Linked DNA regions of Homo sapiens. The protein of the gene in region 1 purifies or fractionates together with the protein of each later gene. This does not show direct contact. Each region holds a gene or a part of one and is shown in the gene's direction. Other genes may lie near its edges.

The links.
Region 2: the proteins of CLUAP1 (region 1) and H2AZ2 purify together in Homo sapiens (affinity purification with mass spectrometry, with the first as the bait; one large-scale study listed by BioGRID). This does not show direct contact.
Region 3: the proteins of CLUAP1 (region 1) and FTO purify together in Homo sapiens (affinity purification with mass spectrometry, with the first as the bait; one large-scale study listed by BioGRID). This does not show direct contact.
Region 4: the proteins of CLUAP1 (region 1) and IFT80 purify together in Homo sapiens (affinity purification with mass spectrometry; 2 studies listed by BioGRID and IntAct, with this or other methods). This does not show direct contact.
Region 5: the proteins of CLUAP1 (region 1) and CRACR2A purify together in Homo sapiens (affinity purification with mass spectrometry; 3 studies listed by BioGRID and IntAct, with this or other methods). This does not show direct contact.
Region 6: the proteins of CLUAP1 (region 1) and SLX9 purify together in Homo sapiens (affinity purification with mass spectrometry, with the first as the bait; one large-scale study listed by BioGRID). This does not show direct contact.
Region 7: the proteins of CLUAP1 (region 1) and GOLGA4 purify together in Homo sapiens (affinity purification with mass spectrometry; one large-scale study listed by BioGRID and IntAct). This does not show direct contact.

What each region holds. Positions count from the first base shown.
Region 1 is NC_000016.10:3,535,504-3,539,003, forward strand, and holds part of CLUAP1 (clusterin-associated protein 1), read left to right. Parts: intron 1-618; coding exon 619-768; 3' UTR 769-3,500. UniProt on the Homo sapiens protein: Required for cilia biogenesis. Appears to function within the multiple intraflagellar transport complex B (IFT-B). Key regulator of hedgehog signaling.
Region 2 is NC_000007.14:44,838,088-44,841,587, reverse strand, and holds part of H2AZ2 (histone H2A.V), read left to right. Parts: intron 1-575; coding exon 576-689; intron 690-3,500. UniProt on the Homo sapiens protein: Variant histone H2A which replaces conventional H2A in a subset of nucleosomes. Nucleosomes wrap and compact DNA into chromatin, limiting DNA accessibility to the cellular machineries which require DNA as a template.
Region 3 is NC_000016.10:53,822,656-53,826,155, forward strand, and holds part of FTO (alpha-ketoglutarate-dependent dioxygenase FTO), read left to right. Parts: intron 1-3,208; coding exon 3,209-3,500.
Region 4 is NC_000003.12:160,256,486-160,259,855, reverse strand, and holds the end of IFT80 (intraflagellar transport protein 80 homolog), read left to right. Parts: intron 1-1,220; coding exon 1,221-1,331; 3' UTR 1,332-2,870; downstream 2,871-3,370.
Region 5 is NC_000012.12:3,746,610-3,750,109, reverse strand, and holds part of CRACR2A (EF-hand calcium-binding domain-containing protein 4B), read left to right. Parts: intron 1-3,500.
Region 6 is NC_000021.9:44,943,029-44,946,528, forward strand, and holds part of SLX9 (ribosome biogenesis protein SLX9 homolog), read left to right. Parts: intron 1-655; coding exon 656-809; intron 810-3,500. UniProt on the Homo sapiens protein: May be involved in ribosome biogenesis.
Region 7 is NC_000003.12:37,295,271-37,298,770, forward strand, and holds part of GOLGA4 (golgin subfamily A member 4), read left to right. Parts: intron 1-816; coding exon 817-949; intron 950-3,500. UniProt on the Homo sapiens protein: Involved in vesicular trafficking at the Golgi apparatus level. May play a role in delivery of transport vesicles containing GPI-linked proteins from the trans-Golgi network through its interaction with MACF1. Involved in endosome-to-Golgi trafficking.

The sequences.
Region 1 (3,500 bases):
TCACCCTGGAGCCCTGGATCCGATGAGGAGAGAGAGGGTGTGTCTTTCACTTTGCTCCCTTTTTTTCTTTTTTTTCTTTTTTTTTTGAGATGGAGTCTTGCTTTGGAGTGCAGTGGTGCAATCTCGGCTCACTGCACCTCTGCCTCCCAGGTTCAAGCGATTCTTCTGCCTCAGTCTCCGGAGTAGCTGGGATTCACTTTGCTCCTTATACCAATGTCTATGTTGCTTTCCATCCACAATCTACAAAAAGCCAAAACAGGCCTCCCTTCCCTCTCTCCAAGCCCCTGTCCTTCTTGCCATCTGTAGGGGGAGTCTCTAGGTCCAGTGGCCCTCAGCGCAGATGCAGAGTGCTTCTTAGACGCTGCGGGAAAGCCAGCCCCTGCAGCACCACACCCAGATGCACCTGCAGTTTGGAGGATTCTGGTTGGATGATAAATTCCAGCTGGCAGTACATAGCCTCAGTCCCATCTGTATGCCCTCCCACAGCCTGCTTGCCACTCTGCCAGCCTCTTCCTTCACACAGGGATGCTGCTATAGAAAGGGAGGCAGAGAGTCTTAGGACAAGATGTCAGGAATGAGGCAGGATCCCCCGTTGCATCTGCCATTTTTTTCCTATAGGAGGACTCGGAGGAGAGTGAAATTGACATGGAAGATGATGATGACGAGGATGACGATTTGGAAGACGAGAGCATTTCTCTCTCACCAACCAAGCCCAATCGAAGGGTCCGGAAATCTGAACCCCTGGATGAGAGTGACAATGACTTCTGACCCTTTTGCCAAGGGACCCTGGCAGATTAAAACCCTCAGACTTGTAGGTAAATGGGAACTTAGAAGGTTAGGAAGGTAACCCCTGTTTTGTTTACTAAGCTGGCTGGACTCATGATCACTGAAGCAATACTTATTTCTGCTTTAGCCTCCTATGTTTGCATTCCATGAAGCTTAAATAAGAATTGAAGCAAATCCCTAAGATTTATTTTTTTCCACCTTATTTATCTTCTAAAACTTGAGGAATGCATGTGTTCTTAGTGATTCACATCCACGGGACAAAAACTCAAGAAGAAATAAGAGCTGACGCCACACAAGTCTTGGCTGCTTTTGTTACTATACATTTTCTCTGAGACTCCAGCAGAGTTGGGGCTGGAACTTGGCACTGGGGACTCATGTTTGGAATCGTAGGGGAACATCTGGCTGTTAATCACTTGCACAGTTGAGAACATTTCCTATACATCGGCTTTTAATTCTAGCTCTTATTTCATTTTGTAATCTTATTTTCTTTCGTCTGCATGTTCACAATACCAAGCATTAAATGTATTTTAATAACTAAACTTTTCTGAAAGAAGGTTAGCTAAAGTTAAATGAAAACTTGGTTTCTTTGAAAATCAGGCAATAGAGACAGGCTCCAGATGAGGAATCCTCCATTTTCTGTCCGAAGCTGACATTCCTCTGGCAGTCCAGTTCACCTTGGATTACAGCCACCTTCATGTTTCCACGGTTGGTACTAAATCTGGAAACTCTGGTGACCTGGGCTGCCCTCTCAGAAACTCCAGACTCCCATGGCAATGACAGCCGGGACACTTTTCTTCCCTCCAGCCAGGGTTTCTCTAAAGGAGCTTTGTTTTGTCTAAAGTGTGGCAAGACATAGTGCACAACACAGGGACAAAGGCAGGTTTCCTGCAGCTCGCTACCTAAGTGTTTCTGTAGGGGAAGGAGCCAATTAAGAAAAAGTGTTGGTACAGATTCATGTTTCTGATTTAAAAAAACAACAACACAGGATTGAATTAAGTAGAGTAATAGCACTAGAAGAATTTTTCTGTTGTGAAATTAGAAGTGGAGTTGGTTTTTTTCTTTTTTCTTCTTCTTTTTTTTTAATATGAAAAGTACTTAGCTGGGAGTGGTGGCAAGCGCCCTTGGGTCCAGCTACTCAGGAGGCCAAGGTGGGAGGATCACTTGAGCCCAGGAGTTTTAGACTAGCCTGGACAACTAAGTGAGACTCCATCTCTACAAAAAATTAAAAAATTAGCCAGGTGTGGAGGGGCATGCCTGTGGTCTCAGCTATTCAGGAGGCTGAGGCAGGAGAATCACTTGAGACCAGGAAGTTGAGGCTGCAATGAGCCGTGATCATGCCACTGCACTCCAGCCTGGGTGACAGAGTGAGACCCTGTCTTTAAAAAAAAGAAAAAGAAAAGCACGCTGCTTGTAAAAAGCGTACAGTAGGTCAGGCGTGGTGGCTCATGCCTGTAATCCTAGCACTTTGAGAGGCTGAGGTGGGTAGATCACCTGAGGTCAGGGGTTTGAGACCAGCCTGGCCAACATGGCGAAACCCCACCTCTACTAAAAATACAAAAATTAGCCGGGCGTGGTAGCGCATGCCTGTAACCCCAGCTACTGGGGAGGCTGAGGCAGGAGAATCGCTTGAACCTAGGAGGCGGAGGTTGCAGTGAGCCGAGATGGCGCCACTGCACTCCAGCCTGGGCAGCAGAGTGAGACTCCATCTCAAAAAAAAAAAAAAAAAAAAAAGCATACAGTAAATAAAAAAGCACAAAACAGTTTTCACTTATTTTACAATTAAAAAGTCAGAAGACTTCTGAAGTTACTTATCTTTTAATACATGTATTTAACACCATACTTCATATTATTAAATAGGTTTTACTTAAAAATATAATTATTGTATTTGTACCTGTCAGATATAAATACTTATTCAGGAGTTCACAGGTACGAAAAGATACACATAAATTTTAGGAACTTTTGAGTTATTTCTGTCATTTTTGCTTTTTTCTCTTTCTTTTCCTAAATTTTATGTATAAGATTACCCCTAAAAAAAAAAAAACAGCCAGTATTCAGTGAATTCACCAGTAATTTGAAATGCACCATATTGTAAATGATCCACTGACAGGGAAGCCAGCGTGTTGGAGCCATGCCAGCCACCTCAGACACCGTGGCTCTAAGATGCGGAAGAGTCACTGCATCTTCTTGAATGTTACAGATTTGGTTTGCCTGAATGTGACTTGACTTCTGTTTTGAAAAAACATACGAATAGAGTTCTATTTTCCTTATGTGATGCTTTCTTCTAACACACTTTAACACAGAAGCCTAACCTAGCTACAAAGAGCCTATCCACAGACATAGGCAACAGCTCCAAAGGGTATTTCATTGTGTCACCTGCTTCTAGATCATCTGTTAGTTAACTGACTTTGTGCAAGGTCTCACCATGTATAGCACTGCCTTGCTTGAGCACGGAAGTTTCTGTCAACAGCAAGCTTTATGTGCTCTATCATTTTTATTAAAGTATTTCAGTCAATAGTGACCCATTGTAGAATGGATGCAGGATTCACATGTGCAAGTGCTTTGTGACCTGGCACCATTTGGTTTTGGCCAAGCAGCAGAGCAGACCTCAGGACCTAACGAGGATGGTTGTGATTAGGTCAAATAGAAAACTAGCAGGCCATTGCTGACAATTTTTACTATATAATTAGAGGACTTCCTAAAATGCTTTAAAAAAA
Region 2 (3,500 bases), on another chromosome or scaffold:
CAGTGAGCCAAGATGGCGCCACTGCACTCCAGCCTGGGTGACAGAGTGAGACTCTGTCTCAATAAAAAAAATAATAAAGGGCACAGACAAGTGGGATCAGGATACTTTGAAATGAGAAAAATACCCTCTTTTTCAGAAAGTAGAAAGAACCACAATGAGATAATAGTATTGATTTTTCTTAACTATCAGATCACCTCTTGAAACTGAAGAAAGAACATTTAAGATCTGAGGAAGGTATTGGAGGTTCAAAGTTGCATGTGGCTATTATGTGAAGAAATTAACTAGATAGGAATTTGATCCATGGGTCATGTTGAACGTACAGTTGATGACAGCCCAGCGTGGTATTTCTTCATTTTAGAGTGATATTTCCCATATTATGCAGAGGTTAAAGATTTTGGACAGATTACCAGAACAGAGACACAGGCCCTGGGAACTATTGATGCGTAATAGGTTTGGCTTCTGATATGTGTGATCAAGTTTTTTATTATTTCATGCTTACATTGTTCAGCCTTTGATTACAGTCAGTGCAATGTTAAGACTCTGCAGTGCTTCCCACTAAGACATCTCTCTTTTAGTTTCCTGTGGGCCGCATCCACAGACACTTGAAGACTCGCACCACAAGCCATGGAAGGGTGGGTGCCACTGCTGCCGTGTACAGTGCTGCGATTCTGGAGTACCTCACTGCAGAGGTTTGTACAGGAATGTCTGTTGTATATGGCCATCCAGAAGGTGCACTAGTCTCAGTGACAGAAACCCATGGAATATATTTGAAAAAAGACATATTATGCTCACTGGGGCTTTTTTGTTTGTTTGTTTGGAGACAGAGTTTCACTCTTGTTTCCCAGGCTGGAGTGCAATGGCCAGTCTCGGCTCACTGCAACCTCTGCCTCCCGGATTCAAGCGATTCTCCCACCTCAGCCTCCCAAGTAGCTGGGACTACAGGTGTGCACCACTGTGCCCAGCTAATTTTTGTATTTTTAGTAGAGACAGAGTTTCACCATGTTGGCCACACTGGTCTCAAACTCCTGACCTCAGGTGATCTACCTGCCTCAGCCTCCCAAAGTGCTGAGATTACAGGCTTGAGCCACCACGTCCGGCCTCATTGGTTTCTTTAATAGCAGTTTGAGATGCATCTTGTCAGCTATTACCCAATGCCAATGTAAAAGAACCTTGGTGTACTTGTTTTTAAAGCTAAGCAAGGGGCTGGGCACAGTGATTCACGCCTGTAATGCCAACACTTTGGGCGGCTGAGGTGGGTAGATTGTACACTTGAGTCCTGGAGTTCCAGACTAGGCTGGGTGACAGAGCAAGACCCTATCTCAAAGTAAAAAAATTTTTAAAAGTTAAGCAAGGGCCAGCAATCTCTTATCTTTTATTTTTATTTTTTTATTTTGAGACTGGGTCTCACTCTGTCACCTAGGCTGGAGTATAGTGGCATGATCATAGCTCACTCCAACCTCAAACCTCCTGGGTTCAAAGGATCCTCCTGCCTCAGCCTCCCTAGTAGCTGTGACTTCAGGTGTGTGCCACCACACCTGGCTAATTATTTATTTATTTATTTATTTATTTATTTATTTATTTATTTTGAGACAGGGTCTTGCTCTGTATCCCAGGTGGAGTGCAATGGCACAATCTTGGCTCACTGCAACCTCCACTTCTTGGGTTCAAGCAATTCTCCTGCCTCAGCCTCCCCAGTAACTGGGATTACAGGCACCCGCCACTACACCCGGCTAATTTTTGTATTTTTAGAGGAGACTGGGTTTCACCATGTTGGCCAGGTCAGTCTCAAATTCCTGACCTCAGGTGATCCACTTGCCTCAGCCTCCCAAAGTGCTGGGACTACAGGTGTGAGCCACTGCGCTGGGTGCTAATTTTTTATTTTTATTTTATTTATTTATTTTTTTTTGAGACAGAGGCTCGCTCTGTCACCCAGGCTGGAGTGCAGTGGTGCAGTCTCGGCTCACTGCAACCTCCGCCTCCCGGATTCACGCCATTCTCCCACCTCAGCCTCCCGAGTAGCTGGGACTACAGGCACCCGCCACCACGCCCGGCTAATTTTTTTTTTTTGTATTTTTAGTAGAGACGGGGTTTCACCGTGGTAGCCAGGATGGTCTCGATCTCCTGACCTCGTGAGCCACCCACCTCCACCTCCCAAAGTGCTGGGATTACAGGCGTGAGCCACCGCGCCCAGCCTATTTTTTATTTTTTTGTGGAGACAGGGCTCCCTATGTTACCCAGGCTGGTTTCTAACTCCTAGCCTCAAGTGGTCCTCCCAAGTTGCTGGGATTACAGACATAAACCACCATACCCCAGTGAACTTTGAAGTATGTATGTAATCAGTAGACAGTATTTGTGAAGTTAGAGCATAATGTTGTAGTTTATGAAGATTTGGGATGATGTAAAGTTTGGCCAGTGTGATGATATATAAAAATCACAAATATGATAATAGAAGTAAAAGACTCAGTCTGTCCTGGTTCTCTGCAGGGTTATACATACAAAATTGCTGTATATTACTCAGTTTGAAATTTCAGGAAGACAAGTTAATTGGGCAAGAGTTCTTGGGTCACAGACCACCACTTTCCCCATCCCTATTCCTCCTTTAAAAAAATCCGTTGGGAAGTCATAAAACTTCAGCTACATTCCAGATTGGGGAAGTAATTTGAGTAACAAGTAGGTCAAGTGTAGACGCATTCATTCTGGTGGAAACAGAAGGGTCTTACTTGGGGAGATGTGATTGGGAGCTAGGCTGAGGAATTTAGCTTTTAATCTGTATGTCAGTTATCATTGCTGTCATTTATTTCATTAGTCTCACCAAGTCATCTGTGTCCCACTGGGGATTTAACATCGAATTATGGATGTTATGGATAGTTTCAGCTTCTCTGTGTCATGATCAAGGGGTGTTTTGTTTTTGGGGTTTTTCTTGTGTGTTTGTTTTGAGACAGGATCTCTCTCTGTCTCCCAGGCTGGAAGGCAGGGACATGATCTCTGCTCATTGCAACCTCTGCCTTCTGGGTTCCAGTAATTCTCCCACCTCAGCCTCCGGAGTAGCTGGGGCTACCGGTGTGCATCACCACACCTGGCTAATTTTTGTTATTTTCTTGTAGAGACAAGGTTTTGCCATGTTGGCCAGGCTGATCTCGAACTCCTGACCTCAAATGATCTGTCCGCCCCAGCCTCCCAAAGTGCTGGGATTACAGACATGAGCCACCTTTTATTAAAAGAGGCCACCTGGCCTCTTTTATTTTTAAAAATTTTTAAATTTTAATTAAAATACATTTTAAAACTTTTCTATAAGCATTAAGAAATAAATTTCACGGCTGGGCACGGTGGCTTACGCCTGTAATCCCAGCACTTTGGGAGGCTGAGGTGGGCAGATCACGAGGTCAAGAGATCGAGACCATTCTGGCCAACATAGTGAAACCCTATCTCTACTAAAGATACAAAAATTAGCTGGGCATGGTGGCGTGTGTCTGTGTATAGTCCCAGCTACTCAGGAGGCT
Region 3 (3,500 bases), about 50 Mb from region 1:
ATAATAATATTCATATTAAACCTATTTGTGTGTATATGTGTGTGTGTATATATATATATGCATACATATTTTAATAATGCTTGAGTTCTTTCATTTTATATTAAAAATAAAGCAGTTCTACCTCTCCCCTGTGCCCCACCACTCTTCCAGATGGCCTTACAAAGCCTTGCATACCTGACTTGGGGGCTACTGCTCTAGACACTCAAGGTCTCGACTTCTTTGGTTATTCACTCTCTCTGCATCGTCAGCCTCTTTCTCTTGTATCATTCTCATGAGTGTACTGAGAAACTCTGGTGTTCTCTAGCGTCTTCCATCATTAGAGATTGTCCCTTAGTCTAGCCTTCTTCTTTATCAAAAGCTCCATTTTTCTACTCCCCTTCATAGCAGAACCATTCAGAGACATCTCTACATGCCATCTCACTTCCTCCTCTTTCATTCCATCTTCGCCTACTCCAATCTGACTTTCACCCCCAGCACTCTACTGAGATTGCTCGTGTCATTGCCATCAGTGATTTTCATGCTGCCAAATCTACTGGATCATCTGTCTTCATCTCACTTGGCCTCTCAGTGTCAGGTGACATAGTTGAGTACCCCGCCCTTCTAGAAATGCTCTCCTCTTTTAGCTTCTGCAATAATACACTCTGCTGGTTCTCCTTTGTTGAGGCTTCTGCTGCGACTCAGGAAATAGCTTTGGTCTCCTTTTGATATTTGTACTGTTTCCCTAGGTGATCTCATTCATTTCTAGGCCTTTAAAACCAAGCTGTGTGCTGATCACTCCCACATTGCGTTCCTCTGCCCTGCTTTCTCTTCTGAGCTCCAGATGTGTACATCCAATTCCCCTCCCCCCGCCCACCATATTTTCACCTGGAGGTTTCATAGGTATCTTCAAGGCTGCAGCTCTACAGTGAACTCTTCATTTCCCCCTTTTCTTCTTTCTACTATTTCTCTTTTGCCTCAGTTTTCCTTATTTCACAGAATAGTAAATTGTTTATTTAGTTGTTAAATCCAGAAATCTGGAATGTATTCTTAACTTCTATCCTGAGCAACAGGGAGAAACCCCGTCTCTACTAAAAATACAAAATTAGCCAGGTGTGGTGGCGCATGCCTGTAATCTCAGCTACTCGGGCGGCTGAGGCAGGAGAATCACTTGAACCCAGGAGTGGAGGTTGCAGTGAGCCAAGATCATGCCATTGCACTCTAGCCTGGGCAACAAGAGCGAAACGCCATCTCAAAAAAACCCAAAAAACCCCAAAAGACTTATATCTTTTTTTATCCCTTACATCTAATTCATAAGCACATCCTTTAGTTCTACCTACAACGTATGTATTTCATCTGTCCACTTATCTTTGTCTCTATTTTAGTCCAGACCATCACTTTTCTTCCAGATGATTGTAATAGCACATTCCACGCTCACATGTGCCTCTTTCCAATCTGTGCCTGATATTATAACTAAGAGCGATTGTATAAGATGTAAATCAAGTTATTTTTCTCCCTTCTACATCCTCCAGTGCATCTAGAGTTAGCTTCAGATTCCTTACCACGACCTCTAGGGCTATGTGTGATCTGGCCTCCGCCTTCCTCTGCCTCCTCGTAGCATGCCACTCTGTCTTTGGCTCTTGTGCTCTAGTAAAACAAGCCTTTTTTTGTCCCTAGAATAGGTTGGTCTTTTTCCTGAGTGCCTTTGGCTTCTCTGGTCTGTCTTTCTGGGAAGCACTTTCTCTGGCTTGTCATATTTCTGGTGCCTTCTTTTCCTGAAGATCTCAGCTTAAATCCCGTCTCCTTAGAGAATTCTTCCTGTTCTAATAAGATTTCCTGCTGGTTTGTTTCTGTCTTAGTACTTAACACAATTTGGGGTTGCTTTTCTTTATTTATTTACTTGATTTGGTAGAAAGCTTTGTGAGAACAGGGACCTTGTTTCCATCTGGTGGTAGGTGCTCAATAAACAGATGCTGCATGAAAAAAAAAACGTTTGGAAGAATACTGGTCTTGCCCTGCCTATCATGTGAATGGTAATTACTAAATGAAGACAGAGAAGGAAGGTATCTTAACAATGGTGGGCAACACAATACAGGGAGGACAGGTTAATGTGTTGATCATGTCTGACTCTTTCTTTAAGACAGCCTAAAACTAGGGAGGAACAAATCAGATCAAACGTTACAGAGGTAAATGTAAAATCCTGTGATTTGGTTACAAATAAATCAGTTGCATTTTACAGAATCAGGAAACTCCAGTCTGACACCGATTCACATGCCAAGTCCTAAGGAAAGTGGTAGCCGAAAAGCTAATGCAGCCCTAACCTACATTAATCATTCCATGTATTTCTGTATTAGGGAAGGGAATTGACCAATATTACTCTCCTCCAGTGACACCAGTAGAATTATTAGAATTTTGTAGAATTACAATGTAATAATACCTCATTCATCCATGCACAAATCCATTTATTCATTCCTTTACCATTTACTGAGTAAATTCTGGGCACTCATATTATAGTCATGAGCAAAATTGCCATGGCTTTTGTGTTCATGGAACTTAATGTCTAACTCCTGAAGAGAAGTGAGTTCTCTTTTTGTGAAAGTGTTAAGCAGAAACCAGTTTGTCATTTATTGAGACAATGCATTCTCATGGTTAAGAACTCGTGCCCTGGAAGCCAGGGGTTGGTGTCCAGGGGCTTTAAATTCCAGCTCCAGTATTTGCCAGCTGTGTGACTTTGGGCAAATTAATGTCTTTGGTCAGATTAATGTCTCTGTGTTTCAGTGGTCTCATCTATAAACTGGAGATAATAATACTATGCCTAGAGTTAAAATGAGCTAATGCACACAAGTAACTTACAACAGTACCTGGTACGTAGTAAGCACTTAATAAATATTTTAGATAATAAGCAGTTAATAAAATGGTGTTGAGATTTAGGGTGAGAAAAAGTGGTCACAGAATAATCCTGGTGTATCAGGACACACATTATTATTTTTTGTTTTTTATTAAAGATTGTTAGTAATTTGAGCTTGAACTTGAAAATCTTGACTTTAGAGTTTGATGACATTTGTTTTATTTGGTTTTCTGTTTTGGGCTAGGAAGATGTGACTCCTATTTAGAAATAGCCACCAGGTAGTCCCCCCACAACTCCCCAAATGCTTACAAAGAAACACACCTTTGGAAATAATACAATTGTAGCTATATATCAACGTCTGTTTTTGCTTTGGTTTTGTTTTAGTGGCAGCTGAAATATCCTAAACTAATTCTCCGAGAAGCCAGCAGTGTATCTGAGGAGCTCCATAAAGAGGTTCAAGAAGCCTTTCTCACACTGCACAAGCATGGCTGCTTATTTCGGGACCTGGTTAGGATCCAAGGCAAAGATCTGCTCACTCCGGTATCTCGCATCCTCATTGGTAATCCAGGCTGCACCTACAAGTACCTGAACACCAGGCTCTTTACGGTCCCCTGGCCAGTGAAAGGGTCTAATATAAAACACACCGAGGCTGAAATAGCCGCTGCTTGTGAGACCT
Region 4 (3,370 bases), on another chromosome or scaffold:
TCAGAGTTAGTTTAATCTATGACCCAATTTTTTCCATGTCTTGCCTCAGAAAGGATAAACATTCCTAAATTAGTGATCTCCAAACTTTGTTAACTGGTAGAATGTGCTTTCCTAAAGAAGTTGCTCATAGAACTCAGGGGCAGAGTCTATTCCTAACAAGTCTAATGAACTTAAGAGAGGAATAGGGCTGGGCTAGGGGAGGGGAGACTGCATAACGGATAGAAGGGAAGCAAACAAATAAAAATGTTTGCACTTTGCAGTTATTCTTTTCATGTGTTTCCCAGTCTTGCTTTCCCTTCGCTTTCTCTAACATCTTTTCCTCATTGTCTTAATGACCACCATGTCTTACTTTAAGAGTTGGTGCAAAGGAGCCACTTTCACAGAATATGCTTAGGGGAAGCTAATGAATCCCTGTCTTTCCTCATAACTAGGCTTCCAGTGGAAACTGCAGTATATAAGATGTGAAGCCTATTTGAAAAATGGCTTGGTAACCAGAGTCCGGTCCACTTTTTCCTCGTTTGGAAGACAGCGGTCCATCTCATCCCCTACCTTGTCCCTGAGCACGTGTACACAATCCTAAGGCTCCATGGGACTGTTTAGATGTACCTTTATAAATAGCTGTGACTAGATTTTGGTCTTTTAAATCACAATGAGAGTCTTTGCTTTTTATTATATAATTCTTATTTTTTGGTCTTATTCTTAAAACTACTTTGTGGTTTTTGAGCATTATTTGTTTTTGTTTTTTTTGAGACAGGGCCCTTGCTCTGTCACCCAGGCTGGAGTGCAATGGTGCAATCACGGCTCACTGCAGCCTTGACCTTGAGGGCTTAGTTGATTCTCCCACCTTAGCCTCCCTAATAGCTGGGACTACAGGTGTGTGCCACCACACCCAGCTACTTTTTTTATTTTTTGTATTTATTTTCCCATCTCGGAACTTTGCCATGTTGCCCAGGATGTTGTCAAACTCCTAGACTCAAGCAATCCACCCACCTCAGCCTTCCATACTATTGGGATTACAGGAGTAAGCCACTATGCCTGGCCAAGCATTATTTCTTCTTCTTAACTTTGATGCTCTCTTTTTCTCTAATCTTTTGATGCTCTCTTTTTCTCTAATCTTTTGGAAGTCACACAGTCTATCTGTTTACTCTTAGTTACTTTGGAGTAAACAAAAATGTCTTACACTATCTAAGCATATTTCTTCTTTTTTTTTTCTATTGCAGCTCCAAATAGATTGGGAGAAAATCAAAGCCAAAATTGAGATGGAAATTACAAAAGAAAGAGAGCAATCATCAAGCAGCCAATCCAGCAAGAGTATAGGTTTAAAGCCCTAAATGCCATGCGTATCTTTAAGAAATTTTATCTTTTGAAACACGTTCTGATTAACCAAGGGTAAGCATGTTTTGGTTGCTAAAGAAAAAAGCATAATCTTTAACCGAGTATAAGTACTTGCTGTGTATTTAGTGTAAAAGTACATGCAGAAAGATGAAACACAAAGTAATTGATGTATTTCTATCTTTTATATTTTTTAGTCCAATAATTAGCAAAATATTACTATGTACTTAAGAGATACCTGTGTAGTGTCGATTATATGTCAGTTTTTTGCCCATTACTTCATCCCTAAATCTTCAGCATGAACAAATATTAATGTCGATAATAAAACATTGGACTCTTTGAAATGTATGTTACCATTAATTTCTATTTGACCTCTAAATTGTAAAATGCCTCCAAAAGTTTATTTATAGAACAAAAATACATGAGGATGGATTTGTACAAATGTATAAAATGCCACTATTTATACACCAAGTTCATAGCAGCATTACTGGAATAGCAAAAGATGGAAACAGCTCAAGTGTCTATCATGAATGGATAAACAAATGTGCTATAATACATACAATGGAATATTATTTAGCTTTAAAAAGGAATGAAATTCTGATAAATACTACCTCAGGATAAACCTTGAAAACACTATGCTAAGTGAAATAAGCCAGACACAAAAGGCCAAATATGATGCCACTTTTATGAGGTACCAGCATAGGCAAGTTCACAGAAACAGAAAGGAGAATAGTGGTTGCCAGGGACTGCAGGGAGGAGGAAATGGGGGGTGGGGTTATTGTTTAACGAGTACATAGTTTCTGTTTGGGATGAACAAATTCTGGAAATGGATAGCGATGATGGTTGCTCAACATTTTGAATGTTAATGCCACTAAATTGTACCCATAAAAATGGTTAAAATGGTAAATTTTGTTATGTATATTTTATCATAATTTAAAAAATATATCTAGAATGGGCAAGAAGGATTCTCCTCATTCCTCTCTTGACTTGAGAATGATCAGTCAATAGGCCCTGAAGTCTGAATTTGTGAAAATTTCCTTGGGTGACAAACTTGTTTGATTACTCTATTTAGTGTATCCCAAAGTTATTACCACATAATCTTTTAAACAATAAAACAAATACCCCTTAGAAAGTCTTCTGCAAACCCATTTCTGAAAATGGTACATTATAGGGTGGGTATAGATGCATAGATATGGGATTATGTATGATATATATATATATACACACACACACAAAGGGATAGAGAGATTACCTCTCTTAACCCCCATTTTAATTACTATGTCTAGGTTTTTTAAATAAAAATCTTTTCTTTTTAACATGTTTCTTTTCTTTTCCGGAATATTGGAATATTCTGTTCTTGATCCAGATGAAATCTGATTGAGCAGTGTACTTACAAGTTGTACTGTGTATGTGTTTCCTATATTGTTATATTTCAATAAGAAGCTTAAAATGTTTAAAAATAAATGGTTAAAAGGTTTTATGTTATGTATATTTTACCACAATAAATGCAAAAAATAAAAAGTCTGTGTTCTAAACAATTCTCTCATATCCTAGAATTCAATCCAATTCTAACACTAACTACCTAGAATTAGAAACAGATCCCACAAGTTAAAGGGCAAGGTTCCCAAAAAGACTGCCTTTATTTATTTATTTGTTTATTTATTTTTTGAGACAGGGTCTGGCTCTGTCACCCAGGCTGGAGTGCAGTGGCCCCATCACAGCTCACTGCAACCTCCGTCTCCCGGGTTCAAGCAATTCTAGTGCCTCAGCCTCCTAAGTAGCTGGGATTACAAGTGCCCACCACCACACCCAGCTAATTTTTGTATTTTTAGTAGAGACAAGGTTTCACCATGTTGGCCAGGCTGGTCTCAAACTCCTGAATTCCTGACCTCTAGTGATCCGTGCTCCTCGGTCTCCCGAGGTGCTGGGATTACAGGCATGAGCCACCGCACCTGCCCTAAGACTGCCCTTATTTTAGACTCCAGCCACAATCAGAGTCCCCAGGCTACTCACACTTGTGTCTGACTTGGCTGCACAT
Region 5 (3,500 bases), on another chromosome or scaffold:
ACAGAAATTAGCTGGGCTTGGTGGCAGGCACCTGTAATCCCAGCTATTCAGGAGGCCAAGCAGGAGAATTGGTTGAACCCGGGAGGCGGTGTTTGCAGTGAGCTGAGATTGCGCCATTGCACTCCAGCCTGAGTGACAAGAGCGATACTCCGTCTCAAAAAATAAAAATAAAAAATAAAAAAAATAGCCCTGGGGACAGTTCTATAGACAGGTCTAGCATTCAATGGACCATTTCAAACTGGTACACTTTTTGTTCCTACCAACACAACACACACACACACACACACACACACACACACACACACACACACACAAAGAAACAGCAACAACAACAACAACAAAAACCAGCACATTGTTCCACTCATCCATCTATTGGTCATTTCTTTGCCTTTTCAAATCGCTTCCTTTCCTCTGAGAGAAATTTGATAAGGCACAGTTTAGTTAGAGCCATAAAGGGTTCCGTCCAAGTACAGGGTCAGGGGGAAGTCCCAATAAAGCCAGACGGTACCTGTGTGCACCAGCAGAATCCTAAGGCACGGACAGGGAAGCAGGAAAGGAGAGGATGGCTGTAAGGATCAAGGAAGGAGAAGAGACAAAGTGCAGAGAAGAAGGAAAAGAGGAAGAGCTGAGTTTGTGGAGCAGACAGCTCAGTGGCATGGGCAGAACCTACTTTGGGGACCTATATTTTGGGAACCTGGCTCCCCAGTACTCAGAGGCAGCATGAAGCAGGGAGATAACCAGGTGGACATGAAGAAGCCAAAGGGAGTCACTCTTATAATACATCATCCAACCTCGGGCACTGCCGGGAGTGAAAGGGGGAATATTCATAGCAATGCTGGGACCACAAGCATAGCCAGGATGTTCCAGGCAAACTGGTCACCTTCACAAGAGCAATGCAAAGAAAGTGCCAGGCATGGCCCAAGGGCTGTCCATGTATTCCCTTATGGAAGCCTCACTACAACCCAATTGGCTAGGCACTGCCATCATGCCCATTTTATAGAAAAGTTAACTGAGGAAGAGAGAGGCACAGTATCATGTCTATGGTCACACAGCCGATACACGGTAGAGGCAGGATTTGAACTCAGGCAGCTTGGCTATTTCAGAGCCTGCACTGTAAGCGTTATGCTCCATTGGCTCTCTACTCACCAACAGCATCCACACAAAGACACCCCCTTCCCCTCACAGGACTCAGGAGAGGGACCTTTGGGGTCTGTTTTCCCTCACAGCTGCTCCAACTGGTCAAGTTAGCATGACGTCATCCGGATGACATAAACAAATTTGCAGTCAGGCTGAGGTGAGGGGGAGGACAACCCTCAGTCAGGTTTGTCCTCTACAGGCTCCACACCTTGTACACAGTGCTGAGTCTTGGCCTCAGGTGTTGGAGTTCTCAGTCATCCTTGCCTTGTAACTGCTCTGCCCTTTCTCTGAAGGCTGAGTTAGATACAGGAAGGACCTCTTGAAGTTCAATATTAGGGACGGGTTCCTCTAGGACCTCATCTGCCTGGGGCAACTAGAGGGTGCCACCCTGTGATGACAAAGTTATCTCCAGGGCCTCTTCCAGCTTGAGGGCTATAGAATTTTCTTTTGTGACAGATTCTTCAGGAGACAGAGCATCCCCCTTGTCGGTGTGTTTTGGCTCCCAGCCCTGGCTTTCTCGGAATGCCAGCGGGACACTTTCTTCCCTTGTCTGTTTGTTGACACATCCTGGATGGGGCTGGCCAAGGGAGGCATTTATGGGGCAGCAGGCTCTATGGTGGGTGGAGTCTGACTCTGGGTGATGCTCCAGGTGTTTCTAGAAGATGCATGGAGGTAGGAGCAGGCAAGCTTCCCCTGTGGTTCAGATTCCAAGGGCCTCTGTCCCCACCCCATCTGTGCTGAAGATCCCTTATTCACACAATAGAGCTGCCCTGCCTGGGGGTGGAAAAATGTGAGGCTGGGCCTGAGAACTTGTGGGAAAGTGGAAACCGTGTTTTACCCAAGCAAGTCCCAGCAGTGAGGTTGGATAGGCTTAACACCCAGTCCTGTGCTCGTAGTGTACCCCTGAGCCTGTGGAACTCTGTGCCCTTCTGGGTGCACCCCTGAGCCTGTGGAACTCTGTGCCCTTCTGGGTGTACCCCTGAGCCTGTGGAACTCTGTGCCCTTCTGGGTGCACCCCTGAGCCTGTGGAGCTCTGTGCCCTTCTGGGTGTACCCCTGAGCCTGTGGAACTCTGTGCCCTTCTGGGTGCACCCCTGAGCCTGTGGAGCTCTGTGCCCTTCTGGGCTTAGTTAGAGGAAAGGTGAGAAGGGTGAGACGTAGCACACGTGCTACAGGTGCACCAGGACAAGCTGGAACCAGCGGGTGTGGCTGCCCTCCTCCCGGAACCTGCACTCGTGTTTCTGGCCAGACAGCTTCCTTTACTCTCTTTTAAACTCACAGCAGCACCAGGGGACGTGGGAGGTTGGCTACCATGACCCAATTACCAGTGCAGACAAGAGGAAAATCTTCTATTACCTGGGTGATTGGTTTATTTTCACTTTGTTTACTTTAGAGATTGCTCAGCATTGAGGTCCAGGATTTGTAGTCCATCAGAGTTCTCTTGGTAAATGGATGCAGCTTTGCCACATTGTCCGCTGCACATAACCACATACCTTCACCCACTGGGATAGAGGGTTGGATTGGTGCTGATGCGGGAGGGAGGCCAGCTTCCTGCAGCCCCACCTTGACCAAAGACGGAACTCCAGGGACTCTCTTTCCACTGCACCTCAAGGTTGATGCACAGAAACACACTGGGCATGGCTGAGAGTTTGGCATAAATGAACTCATCTTTGTAACCGTTTTATGAAATAGGCACTGTTATGATCATCCTCCCCATTTTACAGATGAGGAAGCCATCTTCCTCATCTGTTTCAAGAGGCTGAGTAACTTTTCCAGGGTCACACAGCTGATAAGAGGCCGAGCTGGGATTTGAACCCAGGCAGTCTGGCTCTAGGGCCAAGTCCTCAAGCGTTCCACAGCCTGCCGCCTCTGAATGCTTAGTGCAGAGTCTGGGTTCTACTCTAACCAGTCATATGTCTTTGGGATTAGCCTCTAAACCTGAGTTTCTCTTCTCTTCATTCAAGTGAGAATACAGGAGTTACCTGTTGATCCATGTCAGGTGAGTTAAGGGATGTGAGGAAGCACGTGGTCCACGCACATGTGATCCCATGGGTCATGGTGACATTACCTGTTTTGAGAGCTTGTGGTTGAGTTCCATGCTAAGGGTGTACTCCTCCCCTTGTTGGTCCTTCTCAACCAACTTGTTGAGATGTACTCCTCCCCTTGTTGGTCCTTCACAACTTGTTGTGCTTGTCTTGGATTGAAATTCTCCAGGAGGCAGAAGCAGAGTCTCTCACCTAATTAGCTTCCATGCATGCTAAGTCCCTGCTGTGCCAGCAAAGGGTCCTGCAGGGGGTCTGGTCTAAGAAGAGAGGGGTGGTCCCTGTAGTAGGCATGCATACTCCCTTTGAGGGGATGTCTTTG
Region 6 (3,500 bases), on another chromosome or scaffold:
TCTGACCCCCTTCAGAAACCTCTGTTGAGGTCGATGCTGCCTTCCCTGCCAAGGTCAGTGAGGCTTGCACATGAATGGGCTGGGCAGCACGGGGGTCAGGGACGGGGGGGTTCTGTCTCCTCACGGTTTGGTCGGCAGCTGACTTGGAGGAACTGAAATCTTCATGCAGGGATGAGTGTGGCTCAGAACCAGACCTGGCAGAGAGGCTGCTGAGATGACTAGTTCTGATGGGATGTGGTCAGTCTGAGCTGAAAGAGCTGTCAGGCTGGGAGCTGCCTATCCTTCATCTGCTCAGCTGCAGGTTTCTTCTGTGACACAGGAGAATGTTGTAGAAAGAGTAAGACGAAATGGTTGGGAAGGAAATTTGGTTCTTGAGATACTGGTCCTGACTCCTGAAGAACCAGGAGTGAAGCCCGTCTGGTGATTGAAGGCAGGGAGCAGGTGGGCCTGGGCGCTGCGGGTCTGCCCTGGAGCTCTGGAACCGGAGGCTTCTGCTCTGGGAGGTGAGGGTTGTTTCCCCCAGGTCCTCCCGGGCAGAGAAGCTGGGGAATCCAGGTTCTTGTCTTGCATCTTCTCCTCACCTTTAACGTCCCTCTGAAACCACAGAGCAAGTCTCACACCTCTTCTTTTCGTCCGTTTTTGTTGGGGACATTAGGACTGGGCGTTCATCAACACCAACATCTTTGCCAGGACCAAGATAGACCCCAGCGCCTTGGTGCAGAAGCTGGAGCTGGACGTGAGGAGTGTCACTTCCGTCAGGAGAGGTGAGGCAGGCTCGAGTGCACGGAGCGTCCCTTCCATCAGGAGAGGTGAGGCAGGCTCGACGGGTTACCATGCTGATACCCAGCAGGTCTGGGATTGTTCCCTCAGGCACCCGAGGTCTCAGCAGCTTTCCAGCTAACCTGTACCTGACAATGTCCTTGAGCAAGGGATGCCCCTGGCTGTTTCTTGGGGCGATTCCCCAGAGTAGATTACAGCTGTGGTTTTGCCCCTGGGCTGCATCATGTCTCCGCAGCTCTGCAAGAACTGCTCTGCGTCCTGGCAGCCACGCTGAAGCCACAGGAACTTGGGCTTTGGTGACCAACAGGGTTTGAACTGTTTTCTCCGTGTGTGCTGATTCTTTCGGTCTGTCTGTATGTTTGGGGCAGTTTTGATCCTTTTCTTAAACAAGTGCTTTATGTGTTGCAGAGGTTAGCTGCTTATCATTTTGTACAAATAACTCTTGAGGGTTTAGATCCTGAAGCCGAAGCAGGGTCCTCTCAGTTTCATCAGATCCATGCGCAGCCCTTCCCGTCTCCTGGTTGTGCTCCTTGCAGCCCTGCAGCACACACGTCAGCCTGGCCAGTGAGAGGGTCTGGGAACTCCCACTCACTCCAGTGTCCGGAGCTTAGCAGGGAACGCCGTCCCCCTGCACCTCCTACTGAGTCTGAGGTGTTTTAGAGAGTTCCCGGCCACCATGGTCAATGCTGGGAGTGTTGACTTTCTGGCTGGAGGATGGTGAGCAGTGTCACTTCCCAGGGATAAATCCAGGAAAAAGCTTCCTTCACTCATCTAAGGGAGTCGGTGAGGAGCACAAGGAATACTTTTTACATCTTGACAGCCTTGGGAAGTCATAGGTTGGGGAGGGAGAGGGCCTGGCTGTGGGGGCAGAGCTCAGGGCACCAGTGTGACAGTGAAGACTGCATGTGGCTTCACAGTCGGCAGAGCTGGGAGCGCCAGGACAGGGCAGGAGCCGGGTCTGGGGCCTGTAGATGGCCCGTTAAGATCGTGGGCTCTGGGCCTCTGCCCCTCACCGCCTGGTAGCCTCTGGCTGGACACTTGATCGCTCTGGGCCTGGGCTTTGCATCTGTCAAAGGAGGTAACAGTATTTATCTCCTAAGTTCTGGCAGTTTTGAGTTTGAGATGAGGTAGTTGGTGTGAAACGTTTAAAACAGTGCAGTGAAGGCTGTGGAGGCGCCCGCTCTGCATCTGTTGAACGAGGCTGGTCTGGTGGGAAGGCTGGGGACGAGTGGGTTTTGCAGCTGCCCAGAGGTGGGCCAGCCCTAATTCCTTGGGCACAAGTCATGTGATCACGGGTGCTCTGTGACCCTTAGCTCCATTGTCCACAAAGCGGCGACAGACATAGCTCATAGATGCTAAGGGCCTCACTGTGCCTCTAGAAAGATCCAGGTACATTTAACCAGTGCAGGTTTCCTGCTCCTTCTCTCCAAGGAGGACCTGGTGAGGTGACCAGGCCAGGTAACTCCAGAGAGAAGCTGTGCCTTCCAGCCAGGAACGCTTGATGTGGGTGGTCCGCCCGAGCTGTGTCCCTGGTTGCTGACAAGGCCCTTAAGGCTGTCCCCAAGGGGATGGGAGTCGTGGGTCTCAGTGACCTGGCTCTGGCCTGAGCTTCTCAGAGCTCTTTCACACAGCAGCCTCTTTCCTCTGCCTTTTCTTGGCCCTCTCCCTTCAAGCCCCTGTGGCTCATCTGGTCCCCAAGGTCACCTGCTGCACTGACTGTCACGTCCCCTCTTCCCCTCCTAATTTAGGGAGACGTCACGCTCACGACCCGTCTTGCCTACCAGGGAAACTCCTCTTTAGCAACATCTGGCCTCGCAGCGTTCTTGGGCTGAGGTCGTGCCCAGCAGCCCTGTGGCCTCTCCTTTGAGCCATGCTGGATCTTTGTTTTTGTTTGTTTGTTTTTTGTTTGTTTGTTTGTTTGGAGACAGAGTCTTGCTCTGTCGCCAGGGTGGAGTGCAGTGGCTTGATCTTGGCTCACTGCAACCTCCGCCTCCTGGGTTCAAGTGATTCCCCTGCCTCAGCCTCCTGAGTAGCGGGGACGGGACAACAGGCACATGCCACCACGCCCAGCTAACGCCACCACGCCCGGCTAATTTTTGTATTTTTAGTAGAGATGGGGTTTCACCCCGTTGGCCGGGATGGTCTCGATCTCTTGACCTCAGAGATCTGCCTGTCTTGGCCTCTCAAAGTGCTGGGATTACAGGTGTGAGCCACCACGCCCGGCCTGGTCTTTGTTTTTCGTAAGCTCAAACCTCATTAATTTAGAGTAACTGGTGGGAGAGGGTAGAAGCTTGAACTTTACAATGTCAAAGATTGATTTCAAATTTCAGAACCATGTTATCAGAGTAGAGCATAGAAGTGTTTTCTTGAAATAATTGAACAATAAGTTGAAAAAATTTGAAGATTCTATTGTTTGTGAGTCTGTTGGGTAATTAATTTTTTTCTTAATTCACATACCCTTATTTGTGCATAAAAATCTTAAAGCTTGTGCTGACGGGACTGTAGCGTGGCCCGTTCTGGCGCTCCCCAGCCCTGAGCTCGTGCTGACAGTAGCGTGGCCCGTTCTGGCGCTTCCTGCTTGTGTGCAGGTGTTTCCCATAGCCCGCCTTGAGGGGCACGAGGATGGGAATTATTTGAGCCGTGCGGCAGGGTCAGGGTTTTGGGTGTTGGGGAGGAGCCTTGGCCTGGGGAGGCACTTAGTGCTTCTGGCCAGGAGCCGG
Region 7 (3,500 bases), on another chromosome or scaffold:
GCAGTGGCGTGATCATAGCTTAACTGCAATCTCAAATTCCTGGGCTCTAGCAATCCTCCAGCCTCTGCCTCCAGAGTGGCTGGGAATACAGGCATATGCCACCACGCCCAGCTAATTTTTAAATTTTTTGTAGAGATGGGGTCTCACTATGTCGCCCAGGCTGGTCTCAAACCCCTGGGCTCAAGCGATCCTTCCGCCTTGGCCTCCCAAAGTGTTGGGATTATAGGCATGAGCCACCACTCCTAGCTCTTCAGTTAATGTTAAGGATACTTTTTTATTTATTGTATCTTTTGACTAACTGCATAATAATAATAGCAAATATAAAAACCAGCTGTATTGGGAGTAAACTTTTTATTTTGATTATTTTCCCCCACTTTAGTAAGAAGAATATCATTTAATCCGTCCTCTCTCTGTTTTAAATAAAGTACAATAAGCCATCCACATTGATGTGTTTTTGTATGTGTGGATTCAACCAACTGGATCAGAAATATTTAGGGGGTGAAAACCATGTGTAGTGAACATGTAGACTTTTTTTCTTCTCATTATTTTCTAAAATATATGTAGTACAACAACTACTTGCATAGCATTTTCATTATTTAGGTAGTTTATGTAATCTAGGGATGATTTAAATTATACTGGAGGATGTGTGTAGGCTATATGCAAATACTACACCATTTTATATAATGGACTTGAGCTCCTGCGGATTTTGGTATTAACAGGGAATCCTGGAACCAATCCCCCACAGATACCAAGGGACAATTGTACTACTCCCATAGTTTTTTTTGACTTTTTTCTAATGAAGCACATTTATATTAGGTTTCTCTACTGAAACAACGATTACGAAATGGCCCGATGAATGTTGATGTACTGAAACCACTTCCTCAGCTGGAACCACAGGCTGAAGTCTTCACTAAAGAAGAGAATCCAGAAAGTGATGGAGAGCCAGTAGGTAAGCTTCATTTTGTCAAAAGGTTAATTTAAAAACTAGAGGAGAGCCAGGCTCCTTGGCTTACACCTTTAATCCCAACACTTTGGGAGGCCAGTGTGGGAGGATCGCTTGAGTTCAGGAGTTTGAGACCAGCCTGGGCAACATAGAGAAAACCCTTCTCCACAAGAAAAACAAAAACAAAAATGAAACCCCAAGAAAACCTAGAGGAGGATTTTGAGAGATTCCAGGATGTGAGCTGATAGATATGGGCTGAGGTAGAAGTGTCCGTGGTCCTAATAGTTTCAGAAAGATGCAAGGGTTTGTTTTGTTTTTTTGGTTCTTTGTTGTTATTTAGGAGAAAATAAGTGTTTTTTGTTTGCTTGTTAGTTTGAGATGGTGTCTCACTCTATTGCCTAGGCTGGAGTGCAGTAGCATGATCTCGGCTCACTGCAACCTCCATCTCCTGGGTTCAAGCGATTCTCCTGCCTCAGCCTCCCGAGTAGCTGGGATTACAGGCACACACCACCATGCCCGGCTAATTTTTGTATTTTCAGTAGAGACGGGCTTTCACTATGTTGGCCAGGCTGGTCTCGAACTCCTAATCTCAAGTAATCTACCTGCCTCAGCCTCCCAAAGTATTGGGATTACAGGTGTGAGTCACTGTGCCCAACCAAAAAAGTTGTTTTAATATGCAAAAATTTCATAGTCTGTAACACCACATTTTCATTGTAATTGAAATTCATTTATTATGCTACACTGTTTTATTAATAGCAGTAGCTAGATTTCATATGAACAGGTCAGTTCTGCTTACATGCTAATAAGTGGGCTATTTGTAATTGTTTGGATATTTTAGTTTTTAAATATTGCTTAAATAGTTCTATATTCATAGATATTTGTATTTGTCCTATTAATTGCTTTTTAACTGGAAAAAGAAGAAATAGCTATATTTTGTCTTAAAATTCAGTTACAGCCTTCTTTGCTTTGAGGCTTGAGGTATATACGCAATAAAATTCCCGTCTTTTATTTCCTAGCTTTTTCTTTCAAAGGGACTTATGATAAACTTGGAGTAAGTAGTTGAGCAGTTAACTATCTGAGCAACCAGACTATGGTGGGGTGGTGGGGCGGCGGGGCCAGTCCCGAAATTCCCAGACATGTGGAAACTTCAGACTCATAAATGTAAAGAGATGGAGAAAGTTGCACTTACCAGAACTCCTCTCAGAAAGAGATTAGAATGTGGTTGGAAAGAATACCGTACTTTATTAATCCTTTTGGGAGGTGAGCTAAGACACATAATTTTGAATAACAAAAGATGATTATCAAACTGTCATTTTAAGGAGGGTGGATTCAGTTAATGTTAGTTAACTACTGTGCCATTCTGAATGGGGTTGAACCTCAAAGAGGTGAATTACTACTAAGCTTCTTCAGATAAAGATTAAACAACTAATACTAAGTAGAGGTTTGGAAGGGTGCCAGTTTATTAGCTGACTAGGGTTGTCCCTTCTTCATCTAAGAGTATAGCAGAATATTGGTGTAAGAATACACTCCTGGTGGGGCGTGGTGGCTCTCACCTGTAATCCCAACACTTTGGGAGGCTGAAGCAGGCGGATTGCCTGAGGTCAGGAGTTCGAGACTAGTCTGGCCAACATGGTGAAACCCCACCTCTACTAAAAATACAAACAAGTTAGCGAGACGTGGTGGTGTGCGCCTGTAATCCCAGCTACTTGGGAGGTTGAGGCAGGGGAATTGCTTGAACCAGGGAGGTGGAGGTTGCAGTGAGCCGAGATCATGCCACTGCACTCCAGTCTGGGCGGCAAAGCGAGGCTCCGTCTCAAAAAAAAAAAGAGGGAATACACACCTGTGTAGTAACAGACTGTTCCTGGAAGTGTCCTTATATTTGTAACCGCCCAAAGGGTTCACCTTGCCCACTGCCTAGACAGAGCTGATTTATCAAGATAGGGGAATTGCAGTAGAGAAAGAGTAATTCACGCAGAGCCGAGTGTGCACGTGACCAGAGTTTTATTTTACTCAAATCAGTCTCGCCAAGCATTCACGGATCCGAGTTTTTAAGAACAATTTAGTGGGTGGGAGGAAGCCAGTGAGCCAGGAGTGCTGATTGGTCAGGTCAGAGATGATATCATAGGGAATCAAAGCTGTCTTCTTGTGCTGAGTCACTTCCTGGGTGGGAGCCACAAGATCAGATGAGCCAATTTATCGATCTGGGTGTTGCCAGCTGATCCATCAAGTGCAGGGTCTGCAAAATATCTCAAGCAGTGATATTAGGAGCAGTTTAGTGGTGGTCAGAATCTTGTAGCCTTCAGCTGCATGACTCCTAAATGATAATTTCTAATCTTTTGGCTAATTTGTTAGTCCTACAAAGGCAATCTAGTCTCCAGGCAAGAAGGGGGTTTGTTTGGGAAATGGCTTTTATTGTCTTTGTTTTAGACTATAAACTATAAACTAAGTTCTCCCAAAGTTAGTTCAGCCTACACCCAGGAACGAACAATGACAGCTTAAAGGTTAGAACCAAGATGGAGTCGGTTAGATTAGATCTCTTTGACTGTCTCAGTCATAA